Linked DNA regions of Homo sapiens: region 1 is linked to region 2. Evidence: fine-mapped expression QTL. A gene starts in region 2. The other region holds a variant in brackets. All regions are shown on one strand. Distances are from middle to middle.

Evidence for each region.
Region 1: its variant is fine-mapped to the expression of LINC02899 in prostate (GTEx, PIP above 0.99).

Annotation. Positions count from the first base shown.
Region 1 is chr5:24,866,364-24,869,283 of GRCh38, forward strand. No RefSeq gene overlaps it. Among named protein-coding and RNA genes, the nearest start is that of LINC02239, 27 kb to the left of the region's middle. The variant G/A (reference allele first, on the strand shown) is at 1,658.
Region 2 is chr5:23,949,902-23,952,821 of GRCh38, forward strand. LINC02899 (long intergenic non-protein coding RNA 2899) reads left to right here and starts at 1,447. Exons shown (of 5, transcript NR_131245.1): 1 at 1,447-1,902. RefSeq lists an enhancer at 1,657-2,156.

The sequences.
Region 1 (2,920 bases), 920 kb after region 2:
ATACGTCCAGTAAATCAGGTCATAAGATAAAGTACTAGGGTACGAAAAGGCACAATCAATGGACAGGGATTCTTGAAGTGAGCGGGAATAAAAACACATTACTGAGCCTAACGTGGTAGAAAAAGTTGCAGAGAATTTGAAAGAAGCTCAAGGAAGGTAAGGAGTCTAGCAAAAAAAGAAAAAAAAGAAAAAGGCTCACCTTTAAAGACAACTATACTGATGGCTAAAGAAAGTGAACAGAAGTGTAAAACACAGTTTTTCACAAAAATTTCAAACCACACATATTATCAAAAAAATCTGTCTTATTCTGGGTTTTAGTGTTAGTAATGAAATTAAATCTTCTTATTAATTCATATTAATAAAAGTGTTCAGCAGCCACTGCTTTGCACTATTTGTTAAATTATTTAAAAATAGTTTAGAAAATTGAGGTTCTGTTTATTCAGATCCTTTTATGCTAACCTTTTGTACAAATACTGGGGAAACTGATAAACAAAACAATTGAGTGGAATTTTGGAGAGCAAAAATTGCCATGGAGAGGTTTTCATTGTTCCAAGTTGTGTGTTGTGGGGGCCTAGACTTTAGTGTATCCAGAAATTCTTTTGATCTCAGAGTTAGCAAACACTTGGGGTGGTTCAGCTTTTAAGAAATTATTTTAAAATCAGGTTTATTGATGTATAACTTATATACAGTAAAATTCATTTTTAAATCGAGAGTTTCTTGAACCCTTTAAAATCTGCAATTTCCTAGGTGCAAATTTAATCAAGATGTATAATATTTCCATCACCCTAATAGTCCTCTCATATCCCTTTATAGTTAATTCTTTTCTCCAGCTCTCAGTCTCTAGAAACCATTGATCTGCCTTCTGTTTCTATACATTTCTCCTTGTTTGCTTTGCTACATCATTTAAAAAAATTAAGATGTTATTTACATAAAATAAAACTTACTTTTTTAAGTGTACAATTAGATGAATCTGGGTTTAGTTTTTTTATGTCTGTGGACTGTGATTGAGGTTTTAAGCCACACATAGGCTATTTTGACTTTGAAGGGCTGCAGTTAATGGTGGCTCTGTCCATAAAATAATAACTTTTTCTTCAGCAATATCTTAGTTCATTTGGACTGCCATAACACAATACCTTAAACTGCCAACTTATAAACAACAGAAATTTATTGTTCACAGTTTTGGAGGCTACGAAGTCCAAGATCAAGGCACCAGTGGATTTGGTGTCTACTATGGGCTGCTCTCTGCTTCAGAGATGGCCTGCCTTTTCATGTTGTCTTCTCACGTGGTAGAAAAAAAAGGATAGGTTCTTTCAAGTTCTTTTATAAAGGCACTAATCCCACTCATGAGGGCTCTGCCCTCATGACTTAATCACCTCCCAAAAGCCTCAACTCTCAATAAAACCACAATGGGAATTAGGCTTCAAAATGAATTTTAGAAAAATACATTCAAAGTATAGCAAGAGGGTAAGGATCTAAGACAAGACATAGGCAGCCTGGACCTCTGCAAAGGCCACAAGAGAGCACATAAGCAGCAACACAAGAACATAAGCAACCTCAACTGACAGTAGCAAGCCGTTGAGATTATAATTGTCAGGCTAATTTATGGAAGGAATTAGATCTCAGGGTCCATATTGGTGGCCTCACTCATTTCTGGTTC[G/A]TAATAGATATGGTCAAGCAAAGTCATGGATCTGGAGAAGTTGCTGGGTTTTTTGGTTTTGTGTTGTTTTCTTTTGTTTGGTTTTTTATAGTTGTGACCAGCTTCAAAATGTAGGTTGCTGCAGCTCAGCAAGAAAGCATAACTTTTCTGAAGCATGCATGTCATAGACAGGCTTGTAACTCTAAAGGAAAGAGAGCCTTATGTGCATTAGAAGCGGGGTCAGGAGGCTGAAAAATATTAACTGCTTTTCAAGTGCAAGTTGGCAGAATTCTGCATGTAATCATGTACGTTGCTGAAGTTCCAGCTGTTAATCTTAGTGTTAGGCTAGCTAAGAAGATCTAGTCATGAGCTGTGTTCCCCATTCAGGGACTCTCCATGCAGGAAAATAAAGGCACTGACTGACCTTGAGTCCTCTGGTGGTTTCGACATGTGCTGAAATGTCATCTCTCATGGTCTGAAGGTAACTGTTGAATGGTTAGCTGTAAATGGCAGAGGGGATTTTCCCAGGAGACAGGTTTCTTAGTCCTGAAGAATTTGGTTGCTGCACAGGACTAAATCCTACTCAAAAATAGAAGGGATGATATGTCACTTTATAGAATTCACAATCAGTTCAGCACTGGCATGTTAAAAATAGGGCTGAAAGAGGAATGGCAATTATTAAGGATAGATGAAATGATTTCCAGAGGTAGTGTGTATGTACGTATCATACAAATGTTATTTTTTTCCTAGGAATTTCTCCTAACTGAATTTAAAATCCACAGAACGTGAATATAAGACAATGTGTTTCCATAGACTTCTAACTTCATAAACCAAAACCAAGATTTTCTTGTTTTTCCCTTATCCCCTGAGATTCAGGTTATTTTATTCTGAAGCCTAAGGCAATATAAAGTGCTACCTTCTGGCAACATAATTATGACTGTGATCATTGGATTAGGTACTATACATTCAGTGGCTTGCTAGATGTGAAGGGTAGTAATGCTCATTTTGTGACCGACTGATTTTTTTGGTGCATTAAAAGTGAGGTACATCAGAAACTGACATAGAAAGAAAATACTTTCTGAGGCCCTGACGGAAATATTCATAATTCTGTGAAAGCCCCATGCACTGATGTTGAAGAAGCCAAATTTTGTCCATGTATTGGAGAACTCCTAGACCTGAAATCCAGCAAAACATGAAGGTGGGAAGGATGGATTGTAGATTTTCCCTTTTTTGGAATGGTGACTCACATGTGCAAAAGAAATTAATTTTGGACTTTTATCTGTT
Region 2 (2,920 bases):
TTTTTTGGAAATTTTGTTACCAGATGGTTTATTGATTGATACTAATCCTAAATCCAAGAGTTGTCATTAAGTATACAAATAGTATTTTAATTATGAGTATCAATCCAAAATTTAACTGTTTATGTAAATTTTAAGTGTAATAATAGTTGTGTGTGTACATGCATGTACACATTAATACTAAGAAACAGACCCAGCGAAGATAATATGTATGATACAAAATGAGATACTTCTCAACAAACATTCACTCCTTTCTGGCTCCATAAATTTGGGATTTGCTCTCTGGCTTACGGTGGTCAAAAGAGAGTAAAGTGAGATATAAGCAAAGGCTATACCTATGATTCAGGAAGTTGGCCTGTCTTTTTGCTGTTTTGGATCTGCCATCAAAAGACAGTGATTTGAGGAGCTGAATAGTAACCAATGATTTAAAGAGAGTTAGGAAATATATGGAGGAGATTTGCATGTAATTTGCAGCTTAACATTAAGTCAAGACAATCATATATGAGTCTAGTAGAGCAATAGTCACCCTTCAAACATGGAAATATGGGCATAAGCGTTAGAAGCCAGAGTGAATTAGTGTTGATTACACAGCAAGAAATGGCTTACTAAAAATGTAATGTTACTTACAATATGTGGAATTACAACCAAATGTATTAATCAACATAACTACATCACATGGGTAAAAAAAGAAGTTATATTGTACAATTTAAGATGTAAATACTCCTTTTTTTCTCTAATATATGAAGTTAAGTCTTACATAACTCTCAATGACTGAAGATAAATACAATTGTGTAATTAAAGAAATTTGCTAAGATAATTATCTCTCCAATTTATAAATGAAATATATTATTTAACTATTTAGATATAAATTATAAGTGATAAACGAGTGAGAAGAACTTTTAGAAGGGGTCAAAATTAATTAAGCAAGATTTTTTTTTTTTGCTAAATGCCCATCTCACAGGTTTTTAAAAAAATTTTTTTTTGCTAAATTATAACTAAGCAAGTTTCAATGTTTTTTAAGATGTATAGGTCATGAATATAATTTTACTAATGTCATATGTGGTGTGAGATAAAATATTTGAGGCATTTTTGAATTGCATCCAGATTCTACACTTTGTTTCATTAACATTTTCAAATAAATCTTAAAGTATTATAAATATTTAATATTTAAAAATTTTGGAACTCATCAAAGATATTGAGAGGTGACAACGTGCTGGCAGTCCTCACAGCCCTCGCTCGCTCTCGGCGCCTCCTCTGCCTGGGTTCTCACTTTGGCGGCACTTGAGGAGCCGTTCAGCCCACCGCTGCACTGTGGCAGCCCCTTTCTGGGCTGGCCAAGGCCGGAGCCGGCTCCCTCAGCTTGCAGGGAGGTGTGGAGGGAAAGGCGACAGCGGGAACCGGGGCTGCGCGCGGCGCTTCCGGCGCTGCGCGCGGCGCTTGCGGCCAGCTGGAGTTCCGGGTGGGCGTGGGCTTGGCGGGCCCTGCACTCGGAGCAGCCGGCTGGCCCCGCCGCGGCCGAGCAATGAGGAGTACACCCTCCGGGCCAGCGACTGTGGAGGGTGTACTGGGTACCCCAGCAGTGACAGCCCACCGGCGCTGCGTTCGATTTCTCGCTGGGCCTTAGCTGCCTTCCCTCAGGGCAGGGCTCGGGACCTGCAGCCCGCCATGCCTGAGCCTCCCACCCCCTCCGTTGGCTCCTGTGCTGCCCGAGCCTCCCGGATGAGCGCCGCCCCCTGCTCCAGGGCGCCCAGTCCCATCGACCACCCAAGGGCTGAGGAGTGCGGGCGCGCGGCGCGGGACTGGCAGGCAGCTCCACCTGCAGCCCCGGTGAGGGATCCACTGGGTGAAGCCAGCTGGGCTCCTGAGTCTGGTGAGGACATGGAGAACCTTTATGTCCAGCTCAAGGTTTGTAAATACACCAATCAGCACCTTGTATCTAGCTCAGGGTTTGTGAATGCACCAATCGACACTCTGTATCTAGCTACTCTGGTGGGGTCTTGGAGAACCTTAATGTCTAGCTCAGGGATTGTAAATACACCAATTGGCACTCTGTATCTAGCTCAAGGTGTGTAAACACACCAGTCTGCACCCTGTGTCTAGCTCAGAGTTTGTGAATGCACCAATGGACACTCTGTATCTAGCTAATCTAGTGGGGACGTGGAGAACCTTTGTGTCTAGCTCAGGGATTGTAAACGCACCAGTCAGCGCCCTGTCAAAACAGACCACTGGGCTCTACCAATCAGCAGGATGTGGGTGGGGCCAGATAAGAGAATAAAAGCAGGCTGCCTGAACCAGCAGTGGCAACCCGCTCGGGACCCCTTCCACACTGTGGAGGCTTTGTTCTTTCGCTCTTTGCAATAAATCTTGCTACTGCTCACTCTTTGGGTCCACACTGCTTTTATGAGTTGTAACACTCACCGCGAAGGTCTGCAGCTTCACTCCTGAGCTAGCGAGACCACGAACCCACCAGAAGGAAGAAACTGAACACATCCGAACATCAGAAGGAACAAACTCCAGACGCGCGCCACCTTAAGAGCTGTAACACTCACCGCGAGGGTCCGAGGCTTCATTCTTGAAGTCAGTGAGACCAAGAACCCACCAATTCTGGACACAATAGTATCTCATTGTGGTTTTGATTTTCATTTCTGTAATGATCTGTGATACTGAGCTTGATACAGGTTTTTTGACCACATATATGTTTTCTTTTGAAAAGTGATTGTTCATGGCTATTGCTCACTTTTTAATGGGGTTGTTTTTCCCCTGTAAATTTGTTTAAGTTCCTTATAGATGCTGGATATTAGATCTTTGTCAGATACATTGTTTGCAAATATTTTCTCCCATTTTGTAGGTTGTCAGTTTACTCTGTTGATAGTTTCTTTTGCTGTGCAGAAGCTCTTTAGTATAATTAGATCTCATTAATCAA